5 linked regions of the Homo sapiens genome follow. The protein of the gene in region 1 purifies or fractionates together with the protein of each later gene. This does not show direct contact. Each region holds a gene or a part of one and is shown on either strand. Other genes may lie near its edges. The genes, in order: NUP62CL, MAP7, FOXP1, TRIM24 and BPTF.

Region 1 (6,173 bases):
GAGACAGAATCTCGCTCTGTCGCTCACTTAGCCTCCTGGGTAGCTGGGATTACAGGTGTGCACCACATCTGGCTGATTTTTGTATTTTTAGTAGAGATGGGGTTTCACCATGTTGGCCAGGCTCGTCTCAAACTCCTGACCTCCAGTGATATACCTGCCTCGGCCTCCCAAAGTGCTGGGATTACAGGTGTGAGCCACCATGCCTAGCCAATTATATATCTTTGAATATCTATCCATGTTAGGAAGTACAGATTACTTTATTAGAAAACCATCTTTGGGTGAAGATATTCTCCTTTACAAGAAGGGCTCATTTTTTTAAAAAAAAAATTTCTTTCTGTCTTGAATGCAGTAGTTACTCAGTGTTTGGTTGAATTAATCAATAAAGGGAGTCTATTGGCATTATCATTAATTTTTAGCATTTGTGAGGAAGGTTTTCCTTTCAGGTAAGATTTTTGTTCTCAGATGAATAAAATGATGACTTATGGTTGTAAAGAATATCACACAAGATCCAATCTGTAATCTCTCCACTGTTCTAACCATAGTGACTCCTGGGCTTCTTTGTGATTGGGCATGGTCTTCCTCTGTGGTGCACATTTTACCCTCACAAGGGCTAACATAAAGAATGGGGAATTATCATAAGAACCTTTGTGGCCAAAAAGGAAATGGAGTCTTGTGGAATTCAAGTAAAGTCATTGCCACGACACTGTTACCTTAAGGAAATTGGAACTTAAGATTATTCTTAAGGCAGCTTTAGGGACCTCCCAAATCAAACATTGCATATACATAATTCGGTTATTCTCCCTTTGTCTACTTTTTTCTTTTTTTAAATTTCTCATTGGTTTCCTTACCTCTTTCTCTGCCTTCCTGCTGTACCTTATTCTTAATTGTGACTTGCTCATGGTCCCTTACTTCTACTTCATCTCCTTCTTCTGTCAGTCCTATCAAGTCTTTTTGCCTATAGTTGGATTCCTTCTATACTTTTGGAAATATTTCCCAGTATCTGCCTAGAGTCAGATTTTTCCGTATTGCTAAATTTTTGAAAATGAAATTCTGACTCATATTAATCCTGTTTCACTAGAGCTTTTTGTGCCAGACCCTCAGGTAGGCTGCTAGTAGTACATTGGATGGCTTCCCATCCTTCAGTTGGCCATCCTGCCCAGTCAACTTTGAACCAGGAACAAAAAGGACAGAGTTATCTGGAACAAAGAATGGGTATTTGAGCTTGTTCCCTCAGCAGGAATGTTCCCTCAGGCCAGCCTCCCTCAGAGTAGTCAGTGCTTGCAGCAGGCACCATGGTTTATGCATTTATCCAGTGTGGCCATTAACCTGAAACTATTGCTAATTGGGAAAGCAAAGCTAACATAAAACAAACAATCATGTACGTTATATTTTCATAACATATTTCTTGTTACAGAAGCAGCATTTACTAGTTGTAAGAACATTTGAAAATGCAGAGAACCAAAAAGAAGAAAATAAAACCTTCCCAATGCCCTAGCAGCCACAATTTTCTGTGCCTTGTTCATTAAGTGCTCAGTGTGTAGTAAGAACCAAAAGTGCTGCAGAAATTTAGAAAACCAAAGGAAACTATGAGTAGGAGAGAAGTGGGTGATAAATATGGGGAACAAAGAATTTGAGTCAAGCCATGAAGTATACTTAGGATTTTATCTATAGAGAGCAGGACATTCTAATAGGGGTGTAACAGAAAAAGACATATAGGAGAGAGTCTGGGCTGTAGATAAAGCTTTGAGAGGCTTTTGACTAGGGTTTGCAAAAATGCATGCCTAGTATTGGCTGTGGTATAAAGAAATAGGCACTCTTTCCTATTGATAGGGACATAAATTGGCAAAATTGTTTAGATAGGGCAATTTGGCAAGTTATGTTAAAATTTAGAGCATGCTGACACTTTGATCTAGAAATTTTATTTCTAGGAATTAATTACACAGATACAGTCATGTAAATATGCAAAGATATAGATGTACAGAGATCTTTTGTAAATTGCAATTATTCTTTTCTTGAAAGTTTCATAAAACTTACCAGCAGTGGCATCTGGGACTGGAGTTTCCTTTATGAGAAGAATTTTGAGGATTGATTTGATTTCTTTCATGGTTATTGGGCTGGTTAGAAGTTTTATTTTTCTATGAATTTATCCAGGATTTTCAGCTGGAAAGTTAATCCAGGTACCTGGCCTGCCATTTATTATTTCATATTACAACAGTGTTGAATTCAAATCTGCATCTTTGAGTTCAAATTTGTATTTTTAAAAATGCCTCCATAATTTTAAATCTGAATGATCAAGGCTTAAATGAAACAAATTTCTCATTTCTTACTAACATTATACACTTTATTTTCCAGTTACAACTTCAACGACTACCACCGCCACTTTCACCACCAACACTACTACCACAATCACCAGTGGCTTTACTGTGAACCAAAACCAACTGTTATCAAGAGGGTTTGAAAACCTTGTACCTTATACTTCAACTGTTAGGTAAGCCTATTTATTTAAAAACTTGCATGTGTTTCATTTTATTTATCATGTACAAGACATTTGCTTGGATAACTTTAGAATAATATTTGAAAGTTAGCTAAATGACTGAGTTGAGGGAACAGTCAAGAGAAAGATTTCTGTAGCTTAGGAAGTTGAATAAACAGCAGCACACCTTTACCTTCTGAATATCATTATAATAGAATCATTACTATTACTAATAATAGCTACCACTTATTGTGCAATTACTGTGTATGTAATCTGTGTATGTTTAGCAAGATGACAATGCATTACAAGCATCATGTCATTTATCCTCACAGTAACCCTATGAGGTAGGCAGTATTTTCATTTTCATTTTATAGGTGAGAAAACAAGAGCATATAGAGATTTTATAATCTGCTCATAGTCGCATACTTGTTAATGGTTGAGCCAGGATTAAAATTCAGACAGTCAAGCTCTGGAGCCTGTATATGATGTTTCTCTCTAGTATTTGTTCATTTTTTAAATTAAGCTTTTTATTTTGGGATAATTGTAGAGTCACATGTATATGTAAGAAATAATACACAACATTCTGTATGGTCTTTATATCATTTCCTCCAATGATAACATCTCAACAGTACTACAGTATAATATCACAACCAAGATATTGATATTGCTACAGTCAAAATACAGAACAGTTTTATCACTACAAGGATTCCTCCTGTTACCCTTGTATAGCCACACCCACTCCCCTCCTTTCCTTGACCCTGAGCAACAATTAATGTTCTCTATTTCTATAATCTTGACATTTCAAGAGTGTTGTACAGATAGAGTCATATATATGTGACCTTTGGGGATTGGATTTTTTTATTCAGCATAATTCCTTGTGATCCACCCAAGTTGTCGTGTGCATCAACAGTTTGTTCTTTTTTATTTCTGAGTAGTATTCCATGGTATTGTGGATGCACCATGGTTTGTTTAACCATTCACCTGTTGATGGACATATAGGTTGTTTCCAGTTTTTTGGATATTATGAAAAAAGCTGGTGTGAACATTGATGTACATGTTTATTATGAATATAAGTATTTCTGTGGGATAAATGCCTAGGAGTGCAGTTGTCGGGTGGTATGGTGGTTACATGTTTTTTGTTTGTTTTGTTTTTTAAGAAACTGTCAAATTCTTTTCCAGAGTACTGTGCCATTTTACATGCCCACTAGCAATGTATGGGTGATCCAGATTGTCTGCATTCTTGCCAGGATTTGGTGTTGTCACTACTTTTTATTTGAGCCCTTCTGACAGATGTGAAGTGATATCTCATTATGGTTTTAATTTGCATTTCCCTGATGACTAATGATGTTGAACGTCTTTTCACATGTTTATTTGCCATCAGTAGATCCTCTTTGGTGAAATGTCTGTTCATATCTTTTGTCCATTTTCTACTTGGATTATTTGATTTTTTTACTGTTTGGTTTTCAGAGTTTGTTATGTACTCTAGATGCCAGTCTTTTGTCAGATATGTGGCTCATAAGTATATTCTTTAACTGTGTAACTTGGCTTTTCATCCTCTTAACAGGGTCCTTTTGCTGTATCAAAACCTTTAATTAATGAGTTACAGTTTATCACATTTTCTTTTAATGAATTGTGCTTTTAGTGTCAATTATAAGAAATCTTTTCTTAGCCCTAGATCCCAAAGATTTTCTTTTTCTTCTGTGTTTTTCTAAAAGTTTTATAGTTTCACATTTTACATTTGAGCTTGTGATCCAACTGGAGTCAATTTTTATATAAGGTGTGAGGTTTAGGTCAAGATTAATTTTTTTTTGTCTGTGGATGTCGAGTTTTTCCAACATCATTTATTGAAAGACTATCTTCCCCCCTGAATTGCTTTTGCACCTTTGTCAAAAATCAATTTGTGTCAAATGCTTTTTCAGCCTCAATTGATAGTCTTAAGATTTTGTTTCTTTATCTTGGTGAAGTGGTAGATTACACTGATTGATTTTCAGATGTTCAACCAGCCCTGCATATGTGGAATAAATCCCACTTGATCATGGTGTATAATTTTTTGGTACATTTTTAAAAATTTGGTTTCCTGGTATTTTGTTTGAGGACTTTTGTATCTAAGTTCATGAGAGATATTAGTCTGTAGTTTTCGTCTTTTTTTATGTCTCTAGTTTTGATATCAGGGTAACATTGGCTCTATAAAATGATCTGGAAAGTATTCTGTTTTCTGTTTTCTAAAAGAAATAGTGTAAAATTAATGTTAATTCATAAAATGTTGGCAGAATTCTCTAGCGAAAACTTCTCGGCCTGTATCTTTCTTTTAAAGGGGTATTTATTTATTAATTAATTTATTATTATTATTTTTTTTTTTGAGACAGAGTCTCACTGTGACGCCCAGGCTAGAGTGCAGTGTCAAGATCTTAGCTCACTGCATCCTCCACCTCCCAGGTTCAAGTGATTCTCCTGCCTCAGCCGAGGCCTCCTGAGTAGCTGGGATTACAAGCTCCCGCCACCACGTCCAGCTAATCTTTGTTTTTTGTTTTTTTGTTTTGTTTGTTTGTTTGTTTGTTTGTTTGAGACGGAGTCTCGCTCTGTCGCCCAGGCTGGAGTGCAGTGGCACGATCTCGGCTCACTGCAAGCTCCGCCTCCCAGGTTCACGCCATTCTCCTGCCTCAGCCTCCTGAGTAGCTGGGACTGCAGGCACCCGCCACCACGCCCAGTTAATTTTTTTGTATTTTTAGTAGAGACGGGGTTTCACCGTGTTAGCCAGGCTGGTCTCGAACTCCTGACTTCGTGATCCTCCCGTCTGGGCCTCCCAAAGTGCTGGGATTACAGGCGTGAGCCACTGCGCCCAGCTAAAGGGGCTTTTAGGCTAAAGGGGCTTTTAAATTACAAATCAATTTCTTTAGTGGTTCTAGAACTATTCAGGTTATCTAGTTCATCTTTGATGAATGTATTGTTTTTAAAGAGTTGGCCCATTTTTTATATTGTTAAAAATAAAGTAGTTCATAGTATTCCATTATTGTCCTTTTAATGGCTGTAGGGATATTCCTGTTTCATTTCTGATGTTAGTGGTTTGTGTCTTTCTTTTATCAATTTTATCGATCGCTTCCCAAAGAGCCAGCTTTTGTTTAATTAATCATTTTCTATTCTTTTCATGTTTTCAATTTCACTTGATATCTACTCTATTATTTCCTTCCTTCTGATTGCACTGAGTTCATTTTGCTCTTTTTCTAGTTCGTTGAGGTATGAACTCAGACTATTGATTTGAGATTTTTCCTATTTTTTAACGTACACATTTAGTGCTATAAATACCCAACTCAACACTTCCTTAACTGTGACCTACATATTATGTTATATTGTGATTTCATTCAGCTCTATATACTTCTTAAATTTCCTTTGTGAATCCTTCTTTGACTAATTTATTATTTAGAAGTGTGTTGTTTAATTTCCAAGTGTTTGGAGATTTTCTTGTTGTTTTTTCTGTATTGATCGCTACTTTGATCCCATTGTGGTATTAGAATATGCTTTGTACGATTTTAGTTCTTTTAAATTTATTTAGGTTTGTTTTGTGGGTGAGGATACAGTCTGTCTTGATGAATGTTCCATGGACATTTGAAAATTGTGTTTTCTGCTGCAGGGTGGAATGTTCTATATATGTTAATTAAATTCTGTTGCTTCACTGTAATTTCAGATACTGTGTTATTGGAGT
Region 2 (6,173 bases), on another chromosome or scaffold:
AAGGCAACTGGAAGTATAGGACTAAAAGAGAAAAATAGAGGTCAGGACTCTGGGATTCACTCCATAAAGGAATAATAGCTGAAGGTTTGGGAGTGAGGAGAGCTCAGAAAAACCACAAAGGGGTGAGACGACCTGTAAAGCATGGGAGGAGGAAGAGCCAGCAAAGCAGACAGATGGAAAAGCACAGCTGAGCAATGTCACACCTGCTGAGAGGGATGGAGAGGTAAGGGATTCAAAGACTGATGAAGACATTTTATAAAAAGCTGTTGGTTTGGTTACAAATAGTCACTGACCAACCCCAGAAGAGGAATTTCAGTTGTTGGTGCAAGAGTTGGGGCTACATCAGATTAGAAGTGATTGTGAGATAAGCAGTTTGGGAAGAAAGGTAGCCAATTTAATAGACCCTCCCATAAAGCTTGCTGGTGAGAGGAAAAAATTACAAATCCTTGAATAGGCAGAGGGATTTTAAAAAATCTATTCTAAAATTTGCGTACAGTCCAGGTGCGGTGGCTCATGCCTGTAATCCCAGCACTTTGGGAGACCAAGGCGGGCAGATCGCTTGAGCTCAGGAGTTCGAGACCAGCCTGGGCAACATGGCAAAGCCCCATCTCTACTGAAAATACAAAAATTAGCCAGGTGTCGTGGCATACATCTGTAATCCGAACTACACAGGAGGCTGAGGCAGGAGAATTGTTTGAACCTGGGAGACGGAGGGTGTAGTGAGCCGAGATGGTAGCACCACATTCCAGCCTGGGCAACAGAGCATGACACCTTCTCGAAAAAAATAATTTGTGTGCAAAAAAAATTACGGATTTTCTTTTATTTTCTTTTTTTAGTTTTGTTGACTGTATAGGTAATGTAAGCACCACCGTTAACATTATCCCAAAGAGTCCTCTGCCTCCAACCTAAATTCCCTAATGCTGCACCTTTGTAGTGAGACTCTCTTCCTACACCTAACCCCTGGCAACCACTGATCTGTTTACCATCTTCCTAGTTTTGCCTTTTCCAGAATGTCATAAAAGTGGAATCATACATTGTGTAACCTTTTTTTCTTTTTTTTTGTGAGACGGAGTTTTACTCTTGTTGCCCAGGCTGGAGTGCAATGGCACAATCTCAGCTCACAGGAACCTCCTCCGCCTCCTGGGTTCAAGCGATTCTCCTGCCTCAGCCTCCCGGATAGCTGTGATTACAGGCATGTGCCACCATGCCCGGCTAATTTTGTATTTTTAGTAGAGATGGGGTTTCTACTAAACCCCATCAGGCTGATCATGAACTCCTGACCAAAGGTGATCCACCCGCCTCAGTATCCCAAAGTGCTGGGATTACAGGCGTGAGCCGCTGCACCCAGCCCCACATTGTGTAACCTTTTGAGTCTGAATTTTTCACCTGGCATCATGTTTTTGAGATTCAGGCACACTGTTGTGCATGTTAGGATGTGGTACATCCTTTTTCTTGATGAAGTAGTTTGCCATTGTATGGAAGTATCACAGATGGTTTATCAAAGAACATTTGAGTTGTTCCCGGGTTTTGGCAATTATGAATAATGCTGCTGTAAACACTTACCTACAGGTTTTTGTGTGAGCATAGTTTTCATCTATTCTGGGTAAATACCTAGGAGTGGGATTGCTGATTCATGTAACTGTATGTTTAACTTTATAAGAAATGGCCAAGCTTTTCCAGAGCAACTCTACGGTTTTACATTCTTACAAACAGTGTATGTGAGTTCTGGTTGCCCTGCATCCTCACTAATACTTAGTATCGTTAGTTTTGTTTGTTTTTAAAACTTTAGCCATTCCACCAAGTTCTTTGAGTAAAGCAATGTAATCACCTCAAAGTAAAATAGTGCCTTTTTAATGCTAACCCATGCTCACATGAATTAGGAAAGCCTGGAGGTGGTGTTGATCCCAGAGCCTAGGTATAATACGGAATTTATATTTGACTCTAATATCTTTATTCTCCTTCATTCTTTTTTCCCCACAGTATTTCTTTTTTTTTTTAATTTTAACACACCATTGCTTGCTTGAAGAGCCATAGTATCTCTTATTTCCTGTGGAGTATGCATTCTGAAGTTGATTATAGACGGAAGTGCCATTATATAGCACATTCCCTGCCAATTCAAGTTCTCTCTTCCTCCTTAATGGTCTCTGTTCTAATCCCTTGAGATATGGCTTTCTAGAACTTGGAAATAACTTGTTTTGTTGTTAGAAAGCTAGACATATTGTTCATATACTTTGTTTATTATCCTGATTAATTCCTTATTGGAACATCTTATATTGTCAAACTGAATACTTACCAGTTCTCAGATACAGTGCTTTGTAAAGCCTTGATAGTCTGTCATTGGACGTTTCATCAGTTGCTCATGGTCTAAGGTTCTGTAAGCTAAATGTGAATGGTATTTAGGCTTATACTTTTTTATAAAATTCAGTTTTAGGGTTTGTCTCGTTCTCTAGCGGTGATGTTGTCTACCTCTTTACTATCTTAGCTCTTGTAAAACTCTGAGTTACGGTTGTTGACACATTTAAATGGCATTTGGATTTTCTCTTCAGTAATTATTATTCTCTTTAGTATCTTTTTAATTTGAGAAATAGCCTGTTGAAAAAGATCTGTAAGATTTTTTTATTAGGTACCACTTTGAAATTTTTTTTAAATATATTTTTTGAGACAGAGTCTCGCTGTGTTGCCCAGGCTGGAGTGCAGTGGCACGAACTTGGCTCACGGTAACCTCTGCCTCCCAGGTTCAAATGATTCTTGTGCCTCAGCCTCCCGAGTAGCCGGGACTACAGGTGCCCACCACCATGCCCAGCTAATTTTTGGATTTTTAGTAGAGAGGGGGTTTTGCCGTGTTGGCCAGGCTTGTCTTGAACTCCTGAGCTCAAGCGATCTGCCCAACTCAGCCTCCTAAAGTGCTGGAATTACAGGTGGGAGCCACCACTCCCGGCTCCACTTTGAATTTTGATTTGAAGAGTAATATATAGTATTTGACACTGAGAAAAACTGCATTCAACTGTTCTTCATCCTTGATGCTCCTATAGAAATAGTTGTGAAAAAAAGAATCATGAGAAAGTGCCAAGGAGGATTGACACACCTGACCAGATGGCACAGAGGAGCACGGGGTATAAAACAATGCAGGGAGGAGGCTGGGAGCAGTGCACTTGGCATATGTGAGCTGCACTTCATAGGCACTGTTAGTAAATGATATATCTTTAAGTTTAGAGTATTGAGATTTGGGGTATCTTAAAATTTCTAATTCTGTGACTTTTAAAATTAAATGATATGTAAGCTTCCTTTTTGGAGTTGGCTTTCTAGTAAAGAGAACTATCCTTCACTATGGCATAACCTCTGAGTATAAAACTCATTTCCCCAACACTGTTGAATGTAGAAAAGTTCTCTAGGATCAGTTTAAATGTCAAGGTGAAGTTCTAGAAAGGAGCCCTTCCTTAGCACCTCCACCCCTCATCATGAAGCCTACTTGGTGGCAATAACATGCATAATAATTGGCTGTAAGATGTGTTCCTGTAGCAAAACTTTTGGCTGCTTCTCAAGATTCGAATCTGGGCTTCTGGTTCTCAGAAGCTCCTGACCCAAGCCTTTGGGGTGGCAGGCGCACCAGACAGGACCTGGTTGCTTACTTCTTGCATTCCAGCTGGACTGGTTTCTATTCATGGTAGATGCTCCAAATTAGTTCAGTGACAACTTCACCACAGGCGTGGTGGGTTCATTTAAATATGGGTCACTCCTTGACCCCAAGGTTATGTTGTTGAAATGATTATTGCGCCCATGTGCTGGAGTATCATTGATTCACATCATTGGCTCTCAATCTTGGCAGTGATTAAAAATCACCTGGGGACCATTTAAATATCAGGATGCCCAGGTGGCATCCAAGGTAATTATCTGAGAATCTTGCAGGATGGGAGTCAGGTGGCAGTGTTTTTAAAATTCCCCAGATGGTCTGGTGTGCAATCAGTGCTGAGAACTAATGATTCAGAACCATTTCCTATTGTATTCCCTTCCATTTGACTATTGTGGTGTGTGGTGTCAAGTGTGTGCACCTTGCTTATGGAAACCACATGGAAAATCGTAATAGCAATTGCCCTAAGTCTAGTGAGTTTACTCAGGTTGTCTCTTATTTTGCCCCAGGACTTTTTTGAAGGAAATATAGATGTGAATACAGTTATGAGTACAATTGAATAGCTAAGTATGCACACATATACTCAGTGTCCACATGTACGCACATTTCTGTATGAATATGTGCAGTGAGACAAAATACCATTCAGCTTTTGTTTTGACTTTGCCTAGCTCCTACACTGCCTTCCTCTCCCTCCTGCCCCTTAAAACCAGGAAAGGTTAAATTGGGGTAGATATTAAAGTATTTTGTAGAAAATTACATACTTTTCCCAGAGATCTTTCTAGTGACCCCTGACCTCTGATCACCAGGTCCCTGGCTCTGGAGACTGGACCTTGTTTCTTCTGTCTATAAATAGTTGACCCAAGTACGACCTTTTCCCTTCCGTGTGACCAGATGCTAATACCCTTCAGGCTAATCTTTCTTTCCTTCACCTCTCTTGTTTCTCCTCACCGCATGCTGCTGTGCCCAAGGCCCAGCTGGTAACCTCTGCGGTTTTTAATGTGCATTTTTTTCTCAGCAGGATTATTCAACTTGTGCTTTGATTATCACCTCAAATTGTCATCTCTGGCTCTACACACTGAAATGTCTACAGGCACTTCTGGTTTTGTTTTTGAGACAGGGTCTCGCTCTGTCGCCCAAGCTGGGATGCAGTGGCACAATCCTGACTTACTACAGCCTTGACCTCTTGGTCTCAAGCTATTCTCCTACCTCAGCCTACCGAGTACCTGAGACTACGGGTGCATGCCATCAGCCTGGCTAATTTTGTTTATTTTTTGTAGAGATGAGATTTCTCTATGTTGCCCAGGCGGGTTTCAAACTCCTGGACACAAGCAATCCTCCTGCCTCAGCCTCTGAAAGTGCTGGAATTATAGGCATGAGCCACCACACCCAGCTTACAGGCACTTCTGAGTTGCATTCGTGCCTGCTCCTGAGGTTTTGTGGTGCCATCTTTTGTGATTTGAAGCTTTTTCTGGGAGGGCTTACCTTTGGCAGCATGATTTCCTATCCTTTTCTCCTCTTTGCAGCTAGCATATGTCTAACTATGAAGTCCAAGGCAAAAATGAAGAGGTCAGTAGTGGATATTGGATGGGACTGATTCCTAAATAAGAGTATCTTTGATTTCTCTTTAAGATTATATGGAAACTGAGCATGTGTGAGGCTGTGAGGTCTGAAGCTCAAAACTAACACTAATTGTTTAGGGGTAATTCTAACCTACTATTTTGTGCAAGGTCTCTGGAGTCTGGCTGCCTGGGTTCCAATCTCAGCTCCACCACTTGGTACCTGTGGGATCTTGGGCATGTCATGTAAGCATTCTCTTCCTCAGTGTCTTCCTTTTTAAAATAGGGTATTGGTAATATCGTCACAGGGATTAAATTAGTTGATACTAAAGTTCTTAGAACAGTGCTTGACACAGCATAGGCACCAAGTGTTTGTTATGGTTCTTGTCATGATTACTGAAGATTAGTATTGCATTACTGTGAAACGATGGGCACACCCTGGCATGCTAAGTTTCTTCCTTAAGCCGTTTTTTATTTATAATAGTAAGCTCTCCATAGTGAAGGCATCAGAATGTAATGATGATTCAGGCCTCATTGTAGCTGTGTGATCACACTGTCATAGGCTGGCACTGGGATCAAAGGCATCATTAAAGCACTTGGGATGATGGTTTTTACCTGTCAAATGTTCCAGGAGGTTGCTGTACACTGGCCTGTGAGACCCTTAGATTGTGTTATGTGATCACGCTAAACACCCATAAAAGCCCTTCTTGGCTTTTTTTTTTTTTTTTTTTTTTGAGACAAAATCTTGCTCTGGTGCTCTGTCACCCAAACTAGAGTTAAGTGGCACCATCATGGCTCACTGCAGCTTTGACATCTGGGCTCCAACGATCCTCCCATCTCAGCCCCCTGAGGTAGCTGGGACTACAGGTACACGCCACTATTCCTAGCACCAGCTAATTTTTTTTTTTGTCTCTTTTTGTAGAGACAGGGTGTCACCATGTTGCTCAGGCTGGTTTCGAACTCAAGTGATCCTCCTGCCTCGGCCTCCC
Region 3 (6,173 bases), on another chromosome or scaffold:
CAACATGTTTCAAAGTCTGTAGTTTTTACTAGATATACCTTTATTGTATAATTAAGCAATGTGGGTTAAACATACACATGGATGCTATTAGGCAATTTTCTGCAATATGTAATGTTTTGAAAACGCTATAAATATTTTCTAGTTAAACCATTTATACTTATAATAGCAAAAGTTAACTGAGTTAATATTGAGCCTAGGCATGGTTTTCTGTTACTGAGTTTTTCTTTGCCTTTTTAAAGACTATACCCCTGGCCTTGTAAATTTGCATCTTAGGCTCTGTTGAAGGGTATGTCTGTTTTCAGCAGTTGTTTAAATTAACAGAAGAATTGTGATATTTTTCAAATATATTTATATTGCAGGGGGTCCAGTGCCAAAATTAAGAAAGAGAAGGAATATAGCAGATGTGACAACTTCTTTTGAACCCAGCTTCCTCTTTGCAGCCAATCTTATTGTGCATATTTATTTGATTTTCATGTTTTACTTATGACTCAAACTCAGTTTTGAAACACTATCTTGTAAGATTCCACATCTCAAAAAGTATGTATATTTAGACAAGGTTAGGTGTTACAGTACCTATCACATTTCAGTGGGAATGCCAAGAATATTTACAGGGTATAGCAAGAATTTTGTCCTTTAAAAATAATTTTAGGTATACGTTAATAAAACCGAAGTAGATTGCAGGCTGTCAGAACATAGTATAAATTTTGTTTATGATTCTGTTACTTTAAGGTACTTACATTAAAGAAACTCATTTAACCCGTGACTGAAGAGCATTAAGTGGGGAGGGAAACCCTCTGAAGAGCTCCTACTGCCCTTTGCTCTCCCGATAATCTTAAATTACTACAATTTAATTGCAACTTCAAGGCATTCAGCATGAGCTGTTTCTTCTCCACGACCGAGAAAGGGTTTCCAGAGCATGGCTAGATTTACACAGGTGGTATTTTTGTTTTTAATTTTTTTTTTCTTTTTGCTAAGGGCTTTTCCTTTCTTCCTTATCCTGTCAGATGTCACACTTCTTTTATAGATTTCAGTCATAGTAAATGCCATTTTTGCTATACCAGCAATATTGGCCTTCTTTTTTTCTTTTTAAATGTGTTTTTTTGAATCTAGAGTATATAAACCTCTCAAGCAGGTAGGGGTTTGTTTTCTAAAGAAAATAACCTCAAGAAAGGCATCTGCTGAATAGACAGGTGAACTTTATACCTGAGCCAATGTATACTTTTACTATTTGCAGGGGATTTTTTTTTTTTAAGTTGATGGTAGTTAGTCCCACCAGGTGATCAAACATTGAGTTTGTGAGACAAGCCAGCAAGCCAAGTAGGTTTGCACTTGGGCCCATGCATTTTTTTAATGATCTTTCTTGTCATTTGTTACTCTACTCTGCAGGCCACTTTGCTATACATATGCTATCCAAGGAACCATCTTAAACTGATTTTTCAACATATTTCTCTTCTCCGGTACTTGGATGAATTAAGGATAAAGGCTCCAAAAGCTGGAATGCCAGCAGGCCTTGAGATGAGGCAAGTTCCTGAAACGGGCAAACCTGGCGAAATTTGGGGTATCTTCTGCATGATAGTTTTTTTCCTTTTTTTTTTTTCCTGGGACGTTTGTAGTTTATTTCAATGAGCATGTGACCATGTGCTTAATGGAAATTAAGCAGATTTGGCTTGTGTCGCTAACCTAAAAATAAATGTTGTAAGGAATATTTGATTTCTAGAAGTGTTTTGGTTTTGCATCCCATAGATAATGTTCTTACAGTTAGGGCTACGAGGCTGGTATTCTGCAAAGAGGAAGTACAATGGGGGAAAGTGCATGGCAGTCAGGAAAGACAATTAGACAGTGTTCTTTGTTTCTTTAATAAATTATTCTTATTAATTACAGTCAGTTTGTGCTAAGGCATTTTTCAATCCTTGTTTAGAAGTCAGCTGCCATTCACAAGAAGGTTGTGCCAGAAGCTGTGTTCTTCGCACGCACTGTTGTTTTACCCAGTCGTGAAATCTATTGACCAGATTGGCTTGTGGATGTCTCTGCAAGGCTTGTTTTTCTTTTTGCAATGCCCTGATGCCAGTCTTTAATACATGCCCTGCCTTGTACACAACAGGTGTTTGTTCGGTAGTTATTTTATGGGACTTAGAGTGAGAAAAAAATGTTTCCTATCTAGCCAGCCGCTGTGAGAACGAGTGCCTGAAAGGGAGAACCTACCTAGTACCTGAACAGGTGTAAATGGGTGTTTCCTCATGACCCTCCCCAAGCTGTTTTATTTCAAAAGGAGGGGAGGGGGGCTCAGTTTAGTGCCATGAAATTTACAATTCAGTTGTAATAATTTAAGGTTATTGGTAGAGTGCAAAGGGCAGTGGGAGCTTTCTAGTGGTTTGGCCTTGATGCTTAAAGCTGCTCAGTTGTAGGGTTAAATTAGTTCCTTCAGTCTGAGTACTTAAAGTAACTAAATCGTAAACAAAATTTATATTCGATTCTGACAACTAATAATCTATTTAAATTATATTAAAGTATCTGGGCAAAAATTTAATTAAAGACAGAAGTACTGTCAAGCCCTGTAAATATCTTGACAGGTCTACTCAAATGGAACTGATATCACGAAATATTTACATATGTCTGCTGTGTTCGGGAACATCTCAGCAGTGCCTGTGCAAAGCTAATTGCACTTTCCTTCCAAATTGTATTTTTAATAAAATAGTTTTTTTTTTAAAAAGGAATATGAATACATACACAGTTGTGTTCCAGTGTTCTGTTTACTATTTACTTCTCTATACTCAGAATCATGTTGTGATGAGTGTATTTCCTCAAACTGCTGCTAATTCAGATAAATAGCTGAAATGGGATCATTGAATAGAAAGCCCATGTCATTCTGTTTGATTTCAACAGTTTGAAGATATCAGAGGCTAGCATGTTATAGGACAATTTACTGAGGGAAAAATGGATCTGAATGTGGGATTATTGGGCCTTGTTTATGTTCAATAGAATAGATTTGCTTAGGACAAACATTTTCTCTGAGTTTTATGTTTGGACATATATTTATTTATTACTTGTAAGTCAGGTGGACATCCACATTTTACCAGATGCTCTGATTTTAGCTAATTTTGTGATTCACTTTGTTTACTAGGACACTGAAGAATATTTCTAGCATCAAACTGAATTTCCGAGGTGTCCTTTCTCCCTCCCAGCTGTGCAATTGAGTCATAATGTGACTTTCTCTGCTCCAGGTTCCCTGCTTTTGAATTAGGGGTAATATTTTAACATATGTTCTTTGAGCTTAGGGATCCAATGATACAGGGCTTTGTTATTACTCACATTTTTAAAAGATATTCTTGGTGCTCTCAGGACAGTGACCGCAGCTTTTGTTGGGGGAGGGTGTGATGTGAGTTTTGCTTGAGTTTCTTTTGCCCTGGTGCCTACCTCCTGATGACCAGTGGCACTGGTGGCTTCCCCTCCTGGGGGTGAGCACAGAGATGGAAGTGAATGCTCATGTCTGAAGTGAAGGGAGGTTGCAGTTGGTCCTAATTCAGCCTGGTTCAAAGTGAGGTCCTCGCTCACCTACCTCTGTATCTGTGTGTGTGTGTGTGTATGTGTGTGTGTGTAGGTTATTAAAATACAGATCCTTGAGTCAGAATTTTTGCTGATTGACATGGTAACGTACATTTATAACAAACTTCCCTTGATAATTCTGATGCATGCTAGAGACCTGTGAATCAAGTGATTTATTCTTTCAGATGTGTGGAACTGAAATCTCTATCTTCACTTGGATTTTACTGATGATTTCTTTGATTTTACCTTGAGGCCCATCCTGTGTTGTTTTTAATGTATTTGGATTTTTATTACGAATGAAAAACGGTGGTTTTTAACCAAGCACGAGTATTGGAATCACAGCAGAGCTGTTGTTCCCAACACAGACACAGTTGCACGACTCCTGGATGTGCCGTATCTGGGGTGGGGCCAGCATCTGTGTTTTTAAATCGCATCCCACATGGTCCTGATGCCCACCAAAGTGGGAAAACTGGACCTGTCAATTATCAGAGTTGGAGGAAAGCCTGCAACCCTTCTTAAGAGTTTAATTGAATTGGTTGGCCATTGTGAAACCTAAGAGAAGAAAACGGAGCTCCTTTTTCAGGAGGGCACAAAAAGAAACCTTGGAGACTTAGAGAAACAGAGGCAGAACAAGAGCCTCACAGTTCAATAACGTGATAGGAACAACCTGGAACATCGGTGGTTTTCACCAAATGTCAATATCAGATAATTTCCTTTTGAATTTTGTCTTGCCTGCATCCATGTTTCCCAATGGGTGTTGTCATGCTGTAGCTACCAATTAGTGTCAGATGACTCTCTAGAATTTTTTTTTCTGAGTATTCCATCTTAATTTTAAAATTGTAACTGTTTGCTCTTTGGATTAACCCTGCTGGCAGAAGTATTTTGATTTTCCCAAGCATCTTGGGAAATTCTCTATCGTATGTGATGGGGCATGCACGAATATTGATGGAAATAGCCTAGCCAACGATGCCACACAAATAAAGAAACCAGAATCCTAAGAAGAAGGCATCCTACAAGATTATGAAATAAAGGAAGATAAAATGTTAAGGAGGCTTATTTAAATATTCAGGGCTTCAACTAAAGATCTAACCACTAAGATCAAAAGAGTTATTTAAATAAAAGTTGTTGAGACATTTTTTCATCTGTATTAATAATGTGGCTTTTGAAGTTACCCGGTAATAATGTGTCCATAATGCCCACACCTAATTTTTAATTTCCATTTTGGCTTTAGGTGTGGCTTTATTTTAATAGCTGCCAAAAAGTTGGCAATTGTTTTTACGTTTAGAACTTCACAGTTTGCTTTTCTGTAGGTTTAGGTAGCATTGGGGATATTCGTCTAATAAAAACTTTTAAAATTTCTGTTCTGACCCTGAGGCACTTAAAAAAAACTCTTATGGGCCAAATTTTAAAAGTAGAGTGTCTCTACTACTGCATAAAGAATTTCTATAAAAGATGAAACATGGAGCTGATTGAAAGAATAGACGGCGCAATGGTAGAGGACACATAGTTACCACTGTCACTGGTAATCTACAGCTTGATGCGAAGTCATTCCGCCTTGTTTGTTGAAATGTTAATCATTTCATTAAGAAAGGTTAAGTAATTAACTGATATTTCATTAGGGAATCAATGACAGACCTTTTTTTAGTGATGTATGGTAGATATTTTCTAATAGAAAGTTTGCCCCATTTAATTATTTGGAAAGAAGCTAGTTGATTGAGCCTTGGGAAGGAGGGGTGGGGCATCTTCAGATAACATCTATGTCCATAAGCAACTTTAAATAATTTTGGAGAAAATGGTCTATTAGAATAGAAAATCGTTCAGTCCCCAGTTTTCTTTTATGGGCTCCATCAGGCATGTTGTTGCAGACCTGCTGTTGTTTTGCATGCCTTCTCTGGGTTTAAGAAGGGTTCAGCTGCTTAAATGTGTTCATCTTATTTTCTAAATAATGGCTTTTGTTGCAGTGTGATGCATGTTGACAGTAAACGCGCAGCCGTAACTTTGGTAAGCTTACAACAAATTCTTATACTTGTAGAAGCAAGTTATCCTCCTTGCTGCTGACTGGGGGTGCTTCTCCCTTTTGTCTGGCTATCCTTATGGCAACTGCAGCAAAAGGTTTAAGTATTCTGGGATGAGGATGGGGTGGGGGTGGGGACGGAGGGACTCTCCACCTGGCGAAAGTTCACCTTTTCTGATACCTTTTTGTCCTGAAATCACACACAAAGTATGCTTCTTGCATATTTTTCCTTGTGTGTGTATTTATGTCAACTCAAAAAGATACTTAGAGAGAAATCTCATTTCTGTGTTTGCTTTTGTTTTGCTTAAGAAGCAGGACAGTCACATTTACTAAATACAGAGTATCTCTTTGTTAGAAGTGACTTTCCTGCAGCAGACTCCTGAGGTTAAAAATTCTTTAAATATAAGGTAATCCTAAGAACTTTTGAAAATGAATAGATTTTATATTGGATTGCTGGGTTTTTCAGTATTTGTAACCAGTGTCCGAATTACTGAATAGAGTGTGATGCCTTGGTCTCAAGCATTTTGTTCTGTGAGTTGAGAACAACTCAACTTACCTTTTTAAGAAAAGAAATCAGGCTGATATTTACAAAGCTATTTATTTTAAAACTGTATGC
Region 4 (6,173 bases), on another chromosome or scaffold:
TTCAGATAACTCTGTCCACATTTATATTCAAAGGTTTATTAGATGGTGATGGAAATGCAAATTACAGCTGATAACTGAAAGACAAAATGTTTTTCTCTGACCTAGACATATTCTTTATCATTCCCACCTGTATTTCTTATTTTTATGTTGATCTTGAAATATTAAGGATGTGGGCCAAATAGCTCTAATTTAAAAATTTCTCATCTGTCAGTTCATCTACACATCAGTCAGACTTAGAACCTTTTGCTGCTGGTGGTTTGTTCTCTGTTACTCATTCTAATAGTACTACATTTAATTTGTTCTAAAAATACCTGGTTCATGATCCTATGGTTATGGAATCCTAACTGATATGTGTTTGGCAATATAGTCCTACCATTACCACCTTCTTTTAGAATAATCCAGGCTTTTACTTTTATCTTTTTTCCACACTTCTGAATCTTTTATTTTAGCTGGCCTTCTGTACAGAGACTTTGTCTAGTCCTAAACTATTATTTCAATGACTATGCATGAACACTTTTCAAAACAGCTCATTAATATATATAATCTCAGAAGTCAAAAGTGTGTCCTTTTTTTACTCATTTTTATTTTTACTCCACAGCCTGATTCAGAAGTAGCCAATGCTGGTATAAAACTTGAAAATTATTTTGAAGAACTTCTAAAGAACCTCTATCCAGAAAAAAGGTTTCCCAAACCAGAATTCAGGAATGAATCAGAAGATAATAAATTTAGTGATGATTCAGATGATGACTTTGTACAGCCCCGGAAGAAACGCCTCAAAAGCATTGAAGAACGCCAGTTGCTTAAATAATATGCAGCACCACTAGCTTGTGCTGGTTTTTAGATTTTTTTGTTTTCAAAAAAACATTTGTCAGTAATTTAACATCACTACAAAAAGAAGAGTTTGTGACTATTCTCATCTCTGTTTTGGACGTTTACTAGACTTTGATTTCCTTAATAGCCCATTTCTGTTAACCTCTTATCACTAAGAAAGAAAGGAAAGAAGGAGATGAATAGAAGAAAGAAAATGGAAAGAAGGAAAAAAGGAGGATAGAAAAAGGATGGAAGAAAGAAGCATTGAAAACAAAGACATTCTTCCCACTTCTTGGATTTTTAAACCACAGTCTGGAGTGATAGCTACTGTAGAAAGGAAATAGACTTTGTATGAACTCTTTAAGTTGAAAAGTAAAAAATATATGTGGTTTGGATGTGTGCTTTAATTCAGCTTTAGAAATTAATACCACTACCCGTGAATTATATGGCCTGACAATATGAATTAGGTGTACTGTACTGAAGAACAGTACTCCACAAACATGGGTGGTAACAAGAGTTCCATCCCAGGAGGCCAAACGGTGCAACAGAAGGGTAGGTTAGATGCTATTAAGAAGGCACTTAATAGTACATCATGTAAGATGGCAACTGTATTAAAGAAAAATCCGGAAAACAAATGTTTGATTTTTGTTTTTGTTTTTATCTTGTCTGTAGAGGTATTTTGGTATAGCAGGTTTTCAAGGCCATTTTTTATACATTTCTAGATCTAGATTTTCAACTTCTTCCACTGAGGGAAGTATATACATTTGGGTTTGCTGTGTGTCTATGTGAGGTTTAATTGTACAGGTGATCCTTTTACAACAAGCCTCATTGTTTGCAGTATAGCTTTTAGTGGAACTACCCAAAATATAAATACAGCAGCGTGCACTGTATTTGATGTGAGGGTTCTTCATCATATACCCTACTGGGCATTAAATATAAGTTCCTCTGAAAGGGACTCGTTTTTGTGGTTTTCATCTGTCTATAATTTGGAATGAAAATGTGTTGTAGGATTTTGGGAGCAGGCAGCTGGGGGGAATTAATAGTGATTTTTTTTTTTTCCTGAAGCATCTATCTCATGTTTTTCTTTTGAGAGTCAGAACATCAAACTTAATCTTTGATCTGACTTCTGATTTTATTCTTCTGATTGATTGATAGAGGTACAAAAGACTTATCTTCTGAGGACAAGCATATTCTTAATGTGCCAGACCTACCCGGTTCAGCTGATATAGATAGATAGATAGATAGAAGAAAATTGCTGTGCCATACATTAATCCAGCATTTGACACAATATCTAAATGGTTTGCCGAAGTTAATCTGTATTTATAAAACATTAACTGGAGTAAATTTTTCTCCTTAGGATGATAGAATAAAAAGAGCTCACTTGAAAGAAGGCTATTATTTGCATTATATCACCTGCCATAAATTTAACATAGAAGACTTGGTTTTATCTACATGGCTTTACTTCTTAAAGTGGAAAATATCCTGTGGCTAATTCATTGGGTTTTCAGGTACTGCTAAAGATAAAATACAGGGAGAAAATAACTTGTTAGCAATAGATCCCCATTGTTTATATATATAGGTCTTGTTCATAATATGTCAATTATGTATTGTTAAAAAGTCCTACTCACTTTTCAAATATGTGTTACATGGTAATGTTTGTCATTGTTGTTTTAAAGTTGCATTTGACATTTGTTCTCCAAAGAGTGTTTGAACAGATTTTGATAACAGTGCATACACCTTTTGTCTTTTTTTGCTCCAGCATTTTATTTTTAGCACAGCAGCTGTGGAGCTTTTGCTGATAATTTTATTGTTGGTATCTTAGAATACTGTTCGTCTGACAGTTTATTCTTCCATACTTGTCTCCCAAGTTAAAACAGAGCAAAACAGATAAATTATTTTGAGAATCATCACAAAAGGGAGTTAGAACTTGTGAGACTAAAACTATAATTTCCTAAATGTGACTAATGAACCCCAAACTGTCACTATTACATTCAGTGCCATATTTATCTTTCAAAACAGTATTTGTTTCACCCTAACCATCTTTGGCTGAATGAAAGGCAGTTGAGAACCATCTTTTGGTCATACATAATATAATTATATTAAAAGTAAAGATCGGGGCTGGGCGCAGTGGCTCACACCTGCAATCCCACCAGCACTTTGGGAGGCCAAGGTGGGCGGATCACAAAGTCAAGAGTTCGAGATCAGCCTGGCCAACATTGTGAAACCCCGCCTCTACAAAAAATACAAAAATTAGCCGGACATGGTGGCGTGCAACTGTAATCCCAACTACTCAGGAGGCTGAGACAGGAGAATCACTTGAACGCAGGAGGCAGAAGTTGCAGTGAGCCAAGATCTCACCATTGCACTCCAGCCTGAGTGACAGAGACTCAGTCTCAAAAACAAAAAGTAAAGGTCTTGGGTTTCTCTCTGTAAATAGCCTTTGTGTAATGGTCTTTAGATTAATATCCTTTGACTTTATTAATAAGTACCTGTGTGCCCAGGTGGATCTCAGCTAAGTCATCCTTAAATTCTGTTCAAATAGAAATAAACCATAAAATGAGCCTAACTATAACCCACACTCACTTATCAAGCATTCCCCCAAAAGTTCAGTGCGATTCAGGTAACCTTGACCTAAACTTGTACACTCCGGTGTACATCTTTGACCATAAACTCTGGGAGATTTCCCTCTGGATTTGGGATCAGGAGCCCAGTAGGGCCCCATTGCTGAATGTTTATCACACTTCTGGCTAGGGCTTATGGATGAGCAGACCACGTAGGAGCTAGGATTTACTCAGTTCCACCTCACTGACAGCTTTTCTAGGTGCCAAGCAACTGACTTTTCCTGTGTAAGGAAGCCCAAGTACTTGACCAGTGATATATATGGCCATGGCAAAAGTATAAATGGATGGATGTAGACCATATTCAACGCAGAATACATTTTAGATCGGTATCTGGCATTGTAATCATTTTGTCTTTTGAATTAACATGCCCTGCTTGTCTTTTCTGAATGGAAGGGTAGGAAAGTGGAAGGTACTAAAAAGGAAAATGTAGTTTTAGTTTCTTTTCTAAGCTAAAGAACTGGCTTTACTACTGCTATATTTTACTACCACATAGTAGTGTAGATGTAGTATAACTTGCTTAGGAATGCTTTCAAAAAGGTTACCTCCATAGTCAAAAAAAGGGGGAGTATACAGCTGATTGTTGCATTTATGAAACTGCATTTCAATATGCTATGCTGTTACTGTGCTTAGACACTTCCTTACGTTTGAGTTCCAAGGAGAGAGAGTGAGAAGAGGAACTCCTTTTGCTGAGCTCTGGTCCAAATTAATGTGAATCCCCAAAGTAAATTGCTGCATATGAACAACAGGTTTTAGGTTTAAATTGAAGATACATTCATTTTATATGTATTTGTTGTGAATGAGAGAAATTGAGTGATCTGATTGGCCATTAAAATTATGGTGAATGGGTCGGGCGCAGTGGCTCACGCCTGTAATCCCAGCACTTTGGGAGGCCGAGGTGGGTAGATACCTGAGGTCAGGAGTTTGAGACCAGCCTGACCAACATGGTGAAACCCCATCTCTACTAAAAATACCAAAATCACCAGGGTGTGGTGGCCCATGCCTGTAATCCTAGCTACTCGGGAGGCTGAGGCAGGAGAATCGGCTTGAACCCAGGAGGCAGAGGTTGCAGTGAGCTGAGATCGCACCACTGTAGTCCAGCCTGGGTGTCAGAGCAAGACTCTGTCACAAAAAGAAAAATTATGGGGAATGGCCGGGCGCGGTGGCTCACACCTGTAATCCCAGCACTTTGGGAGGCCGAGGTGGGTGGATCACCTGAAGTCAGGAGCTCAAGACCAGCCTGGCCAACATGGTGAAACCCCACCTCAACAGAATATACAAAAAAATTAGCTGGGTGTGGTGGCGGGTGCCTGTAATCTCAGCTACTTTGGGATGCTGAGGCAGGAGAATAGCTTGAACCCAGGAGGTGGAGGTTGCAGTGAGTCGAGATTGCACCATTGCACTCCAGCCTGGGCAACAAGAGCAAAACTCTGTCTCAAAAAAAAAAAAAAATGGTGACCATGCGTTCAACCATATAATTTCTTACTGAAATTGAGCTCCTCCTTTTGAATAACCATGTACATATTTTTAAAAGTATTTTATAGCCCTATGTAAATTAATAGTTGATGTCTTTTTATAAATGTTTATTGCATATTCATCTTGAATGTGAATTTACTGTTGTAATTCACATACTGGTGTCATGTTTCTGAGTGAGAATAATGCTAGTCAGTCAGATCACAGATTTTTCTCCATGAAGGTTTTACTTATTGAGAGGGACATCTGAGGCAGTAGTCTTCGTCTTTAATTTTTGGGGGCAGATTGGTGCTTTGGTTTTAATAAAAACTAACTTTGATGGATTTTTACTGTCAATATTTTACCACAAGGATTTTTTAATAGAAAAATTACTGAATGTTACTTCAGCAGAGTTCTATCTACTTTGAGTCTCCATTACTACTACTGTTGTTCCCCTAGCTGTAACATTGATCCATATAGGGGCAAGCTACTAGTCCATAAATAGCTGTAATAGGAAAACAGTTTTTTAAAATTCTAACACGTGTATTTCACCAGCCTTAAAAGATTTAAAAAAAAATCTGACAGGAAGGAAAGCGGGTGGTAAGTATCTTGGATTATTCTGCCTCATACCAGCCACTCCCAAAGTAGGAGGACCAAAGATGCCATGAAGACTTCTAGTTGTCTGGAAGTTATTTGGGGAAGGGGGGAAAGACACAGAGTGGGGACCTTTGGAAGTCATTTTAAAAATTTAGCTATGTTAATTCCACTTGTAAAGTTTGAAAGGTTTTGATTCTTGTAATTTCTGAGAATTACTATGTTTTAAATTTACTATTGGATATTTAACAGATCTTTCATGGGGCCAACCTATTTGCTTCCTTAATTTTCAAATTAAGTCCTAATTTGAGTCCTAAAAAAATCTTTCCTTGTTAGTTGCAAGTTAAACATTTAATAAAATTATTTTCCCACGTTTTCACATGTGGTATGGAATAAAGGCTGTTTTAACATTCCCTGCGAGATACTTGGGAAGGTGGATTCTTTGCCTATGTACTAATGCCTTTAACCCCAAGACAACTGAACCAGAAAAAAGTCAGTCAGGAATCTTTCCATTGCAAATGACTGAATGCCAGTTGCCATTGCTTTGGGGGAGAGGATAGAATATACAGATCAACCAGAGTTAAGCCCTCCTCACCTTTTAAATGAAAATGTACTGACCTGAGAAGTGGCATTTCTCCAAGGGAAAATCAGGGTGTTCTCTTTTTTTTTTTTTTTTTTTAGGCAGGTCTCCCTCTGTCA
Region 5 (6,173 bases), on another chromosome or scaffold:
GTCACTGTCGTGGTGACCACGGTTTTGCTCTGCTCCTTTACAGAGATGATGTCCACACTGCCGCCTGTGGAGGGTGTGGAAAGCTTGGTCACTGTTGTAGTGGTGGTTGTGACAGTGGATTTTGCACAATTTTCTGTGGAAGAAACCACAGTTTGCTTATCGCCTTTTTCTACCTTGATCACAGTTTTTGATTCTGTGGCCACTGTGGAGGTCATCGTGGTGACTTCTGTGATGACGGTTTTTCTTTTAGATTCTCCATTGACATTTTCATTTTTGTTGATGGGCAGACCATTTTCATCAATAAAGTCATTACTGAGATTAGATTCCTCTTCAGAAGTAATAGGTGATGAAGTAACTTTCTTAACTTCTGAGGTTTCTATTTCCATATCTTCTACCTGATTAACTGAATTGCTTTCTGGACAAGATGCTGAGGGTGTGGTCGTCTGTGTACTGTCAGACTCTTTGGTTGATGGCAGGGTCTCAAGGCTATCTCGGTAGTTACCTTCAGCATCTGAAGAACTCAGCAAATGCGATTTTGTTTCGGAGCTGTTTCTTTCATTAAAATCTTCCATGATGACATCACCATTAATGAATGGCCTTATAGCAGATTCTTTAACAGTCAATGATTTAATATCATTCTCAGGGATTATTTTATTTATATTATTAACCTTTGGTTCAACATTACCACTTACTACTCTACTCTCAGAAATTTCTTTCAAGCATTCACCTTTCAAATATATTTTGGGTTTATTATCTTTTCCATTTATTTGAAATGTACTTGTTCTCTGTCCTTTCTTTTCAGACTCTCGATTTTCATTATTCTTTTTGTCAGTGGTATTTTTTAGCTTTATTTGATCACTACATTTATTAACTGGTCTCTCCTCTAATTTCTTCTGCTGACTTGGTTTTTTACCATTTGCTTCAGTCCCCTTGACCGGCAGCCTGTCCTCACAGTTTCCAGTGGACTCACCAGAAACCAACTCACACTTTAACGGCTCCAAGACTTCAACATCTTGTTCTCGAGTTCTGAACTGTTCAGAAATGCTTTCATTGCTATTCTGAACAATCATATCTTCTTCACTGCTATCCTGAATAGACACGGTATCAGAACTATTTTCCAAAGTGCTATTAGATTCAGAGTCACATCCCAGTTTTCCTTCAAAGTCCATTGCTCTTGACAGAGGTGTGGCATCTCTGTCATTGGTACTTTTAGGCACTGATGAATGTAAAGCACTCTTGGAAGAAGAAACAATGGTGTCACTTTCCTCCTGTATGAGCGGTTTTTTGTTCTTACAGATCAAAGTACCAATATCATCTGCACTGGCTAGTTTAGAGTCATCGATGAAAAAATCATTTCCTTTTGTTTTACTCTTACTGGGTTCCTGGCCTCTACTGGCAAGGTCAGAGACTTTTTCTTCTATGTCATTTTCAATGGAATTTTGTTTCGGACATTTTGTTTCTGGGCTCCGAATGGAGACATCATCTAACACTCGATCTTTTGGATAAAGTTTGTTTGTGGTATGACTAGGATCACTCATTCTAAGAACTGAGGAATCACTTTCTGAACATCCCTGAATCAAGTCCTCAGGTTGATCATTATTTGCATTTGGGCTCTGTTCTTGTCTCATCGAGTCACTCTGACACCCTTCTTTTGCTTTCGTTATTACTGGTGATTCAGAGAGATTTTTTGAAGAATTTGTAGAAGTCTTTCCTATACCCTTAATTCCACCCTCCAACTTGATTTTTTCGAGTCGCTGTTTTTCTTCCAGTGTAAACTGTTTAATTCTCCTTTCAAGAAGTCCATCTAGTTTGGATGATTTTGTTTTCTTTTTGTAACTAGTCCTTAGATGAAAACCCTCACTAACATTGACCACATCTACTTGAGAACTCTCCTGACAATTTACATGTGACTCTGTTTTCATGTCATCGTCTACTTCCATTGGTTCTTCCTTGCAGGGTTTATCACTGTCAGAATCTAAGAGCTCCTTCACATCTGTGAAACAAAGACATTTATATAAATGTAATTTTTACTCTGAAAGGAGGAATTTATATATATATATTTTTTTTTTTGAGATGGAGTCTCACTCTGTTGCCCAGGCTGGAGTGCAGTGGCATGATCTCAGTTCACTGCAACCTCCGCCTCCTGGGTTCAAGCAATTCTCATGCTTCAGCCTCCCAAGTAGCTGGGATTATAGGCATGTGCCACCATGCCTGGCTTATTTTTGAATTTTCAGTAGAGACAGGGTTTCGCAATGTTGGCCAGGCTGGTCTTGAACTCCTGACTTCAGGTGATCCGCCCACCTCAGCCTCCCAAAGTGCTGAGATTACAGGCATGAGCCACCACGCCCAGCCAAAAATATTTTTTTAAAGTATCTCTAGCCACATGCATTATCTAGCTTATCTAGTTTTTTTTTAAAAATGACTTGTTACAAAAGACAATGTAGTTCCTCAAAAGGTTAAACAGAGTTACCATATGATCCAGTAATTCCATTCCTAGGTATATCGCCAAGAGAAGTGAAAACGCATGGCCACAAAAAACTTCTGCATGAATGTTCATAGCAGCATTATTCGTATAGCCAAAAGAGGAAACAGCCCAATGTCCATCAACTGATGAATGGATAACAAAATGTGGCATATCCATACAGAGTATTATTCAGAAACAAAAAGAAAGTACTGATAAATGCTACAACATGGATGAACCTTAAAACCATGCTAAGTGGATGAAGCCAGCCACAAAGGACCACATATTGTCTGATTCCATTTCTATGGACTGTCCAAAATAGGCAAATCCAGAGAGACAGAAAGTAGACCACTAAGCTGGTGGCACTTTCGGGAGGGGTTGGGAAGTAACTGCTAATGGGTATGAATGAGGCTTCTTTTCAAGGTTATGAAAATGTTCTAAGATTGATGTAATAATGGTTGAACTTTGTGAATATACTAAAAGCCACTGAATTTACACTTTAATTGGGTGAATTGTATGGGATATCAATTATGTTTTGATAAAGCTGTTATCAAGAAAACACAACGCAGTACCTTTCCTGTGGTGGGACCCTGATCCAGTGCATTCTTATCACCCCCAGGCTGCCCTCCACAGCTGACTCTCCTTACCTTGGTCCTTCTTCTCAGTAATCTTTGAGATATCCATTTCATTTTGGTCTGCTCCTTTTGCAGCATCTGAACCTTTTACCTCATCTTTTTCAGAATCAGGCTCTATTTTTATTTTTTTTGGACTTCGTGAACATTTTCTTTTATCTGACTCATCCATATTTTCATCCATATTATTTTTGGCTAAAAAGAACCATGTAACGATAATTTACGTTATTTCCAGAGTATTAGCACTTTAATATGTCAAGTTTAGTGAAAATAAACAAGTAATTTCCAGCAAGTTATGTTTCATTTTTTCATTTAAAAAAAAAAAAAAGACAAAGGTCTTATTGAGTATAAGGTACCATATAATCCTATATGCCTGGCTGACCTAAAACACAGAAGGAATGCCTGAACTTCAGACATTTCAGAAAACTTTGTGAACATTTTTGGTGAAATATGATTTAGGAAATTTGTTTTAAAACACTGCAGGATAAAAAAAAAAAGGGGGGGGGGGACCTGGTGCGGTGGCTCATGCCACTGCACTCCAGCCTGGGTGACAGAGTGAGGCTCTGTGTCCAAAAATTAAAAAAAAAACAAAAAACTGTGATTCAGTAACATAGTCAGCTACAAGATAAACATTAATACTATAGGCTGGTGCGGTGGCTCATGCCTGTAATCCCAGCACTTTGAGGGGCCGAGGTGGGTGCATCACCTGAGGTCAGGAGTTTGAGACCAGCCTGGCTAACATGGTGAAACCCGATCTCTACTAAAAATACAAAAATTATCTGGGTGTGGTGGTGCACACCTGTGATCTCAGCTACTCAGGAGGCTGAGGCAGGAGAATTGCTTGAACCCAGGAGGCGGAGGTCGCAGTGAGCTGAGGTCACGCCACTGCACTCCAGCCTGGGCGACAGAGTGAGACTCCGTGTCAACAAAAAAAAAAAAAAAAAAAAAAATTGTCAGTGACAACTGAAACAAGAGTGATAAAATTTGGATGGGTGTAGTGGCTTATGCCTGTAATCCCAGCACTTTGGGATGCCAAGGTGGGCGGATCACTTGAGGACAAGGAGTTCAAGACCAGCCTAGCCAACATGGTGAAACCCCGCCTCTATTAAAAATACAAAAATTAGCCAGGCATGGTGGCGTGCAACTGTGATCCCTACTCAGGAGGCTGAGGCAGGAGAATCGCTGGAACCTGGGAGTTGGAGGCTGCAGTGAACTGAGATCGTACCACTGCACTCCAGCCTGGGTGACAGAGTGAGACTCCATCTCAAAAAAAAAAAAAAAAAAAGTGGTCAGTGACAACTGAAACAAATGTGATAAAATTTGGGTGAGTGTGGTGGCTCATGCCTGTAATCCCAGCACTTTGGGAGGCTGAGGCAGGCAGATCACTTGAGGCCAGGAGTTCAACACCAGCCCAACAAGGTGAAACCCCATCTCTACTAAAAATACAAAAATTAGCCAGTCATGGTGGTACGAGCCTGTAGTCCCAGCTACTTGGGAGACTGAAGCAGGAGAATTGCTTCAACCTGGGAGGCAGAGTTTGCAGCGAGCTGAGATGGTGCCACTGCACTCCAGCCTGGCTGACAGAGCAAGACTCTGTCACACACATAAAAAAATAAAATGAAAGAAAACTCGTGTATGAAGGATTATCACAATCTATTTGATCATTCCAGAAAGCCCATATCAGTGGTTTCTAACATACTTTGTGTCACAGAACCCTATTAGAAATGGATAAATGCTATGATCCTCTACCAAGGAAAAAAGTATGTATATAAACTTTTGTAATCTATTTCAATGGTTCTTGGACTCCTTGAAGTTTATATAACAGAATAAAAGACTGAAAAAAAGGATCAAAGGCAATCTGTGGCCTTGTTTACTGCTTACAGTAAAAAGGTATCTCTAAGACAACCAGGGCAAGTGGAATATGGACTGAGAATCAGATTATTAATTTGTTAATTACGGTTAATTTGTTGAGTGTGATAATGACATGATGGTTATGGAAAAATGTCTACGTAGAGATACATATTGAACTTCTGGTGAAACATGATTTCTGGGATTTATTTTAAAACACTGCAGGATTAAAAAAAGTGGTCAGTGACAACTAAACAAAGAGTGATAAAATTTGGCTGGGAGCAGTGACTCACACCTGTAATCCCAGCACTTTGGGAGGCCGAGGCAGGCAGATCACTTGAAGTCAGGAGTTCGAGATCAGCCTGGCCAACATGGCAAAACCCCGTCTCTATTAAAAATACAAAAATTAGCTCGGCGTGGTGGCGGGTACTTGTAATCCCAGCTATTTGGGAGGCTGAGGCAAGAGAATTGATTGAACCCGGGAGGTGGAGGTTGCAGTGAGCTGAGACCATGCCACTGCACTCTAGCCTGGGTGACAGAGCAAAACTCCATCTCAAAAAAAAAAAAAAAGTGATAAACTTTGATAATTGTTGAAGCTGAATGAGTTCATTATTCTCTTTGTATTTGTGTAGTTTTAAATTTCCCATAATAATTACAAAAAAAAAAAAAAAATCAAGCCTCCCAAAACAGAACTACTGTCTAGATGAATATTCTTGGGACTTAAAGGTTTTTTTTTTTTTTTTGGAGACAGTGTCTTGCTCTGTCACCCAGGCTGGAGCACAGTGGGTTCATCTCAGCTCACTGCAGCCTTGAACTCCTGGGCTCAAACGATCCTCCCTCATCAGCCTCCTGAGTAACTGGGAATACAGGTGTGTACCAATATGTCTGGCTAATTTTTGCATTTTTTGTAGAGATGGGGATTTGCCATGTTGCCCAGGCTGTTTCTTGAACTCCTGGGCTCAACTGATCCTCCCCTGCCTTGGCATCCCATCACAGGTGTGAGCCATGGCACCTGGACTTAAAGGCATTTTCCTATTCTTTACCTTCTTCACTTGAACCTAAATATCCCAAGGACCTAGCAAGGTATATCCATTTTTTATTTAAATGAATGATTTCTTCCAGAAAGGTCTGGCTGAAGGGAAGAGAGTGCAAAGAAATCATAATTCTGTCGCGAGCAAGATACTGGTGTGAGAAAATAGATATAAAAAATATATCTATTTTTAATTTAAATG

Evidence for each region.
Region 2: the proteins of NUP62CL (region 1) and MAP7 purify together in Homo sapiens (affinity purification with mass spectrometry; one large-scale study listed by BioGRID and IntAct). This does not show direct contact.
Region 3: the proteins of NUP62CL (region 1) and FOXP1 purify together in Homo sapiens (affinity purification with mass spectrometry; one large-scale study listed by BioGRID and IntAct). This does not show direct contact.
Region 4: the proteins of NUP62CL (region 1) and TRIM24 purify together in Homo sapiens (affinity purification with mass spectrometry; one large-scale study listed by BioGRID and IntAct). This does not show direct contact.
Region 5: the proteins of NUP62CL (region 1) and BPTF purify together in Homo sapiens (affinity purification with mass spectrometry; one large-scale study listed by BioGRID and IntAct). This does not show direct contact.

What each region holds. Positions count from the first base shown.
Region 1 is NC_000023.11:107,163,964-107,170,136, reverse strand, and holds part of NUP62CL (nucleoporin-62 C-terminal-like protein), read left to right. Parts: intron 1-2,352; coding exon 2,353-2,488; intron 2,489-6,173.
Region 2 is NC_000006.12:136,538,544-136,544,716, reverse strand, and holds part of MAP7 (ensconsin), read left to right. Parts: intron 1-6,173. UniProt on the Homo sapiens protein: Microtubule-stabilizing protein that may play an important role during reorganization of microtubules during polarization and differentiation of epithelial cells. Associates with microtubules in a dynamic manner.
Region 3 is NC_000003.12:71,572,866-71,579,038, reverse strand, and holds part of FOXP1 (forkhead box protein P1), read left to right. Parts: intron 1-6,173. UniProt on the Homo sapiens protein: Transcriptional repressor. Can act with CTBP1 to synergistically repress transcription but CTPBP1 is not essential. Plays an important role in the specification and differentiation of lung epithelium.
Region 4 is NC_000007.14:138,584,144-138,590,316, forward strand, and holds the end of TRIM24 (transcription intermediary factor 1-alpha), read left to right. Parts: intron 1-598; coding exon 599-808; 3' UTR 809-5,853; downstream 5,854-6,173. UniProt on the Homo sapiens protein: Transcriptional coactivator that interacts with numerous nuclear receptors and coactivators and modulates the transcription of target genes.
Region 5 is NC_000017.11:67,906,697-67,912,869, reverse strand, and holds part of BPTF (nucleosome-remodeling factor subunit BPTF), read right to left. Parts: intron 3,289-6,173; coding exon 3,109-3,288; intron 1,994-3,108; coding exon 1-1,993. UniProt on the Homo sapiens protein: Regulatory subunit of the ATP-dependent NURF-1 and NURF-5 ISWI chromatin remodeling complexes, which form ordered nucleosome arrays on chromatin and facilitate access to DNA during DNA-templated processes such as DNA replication, transcription, and repair.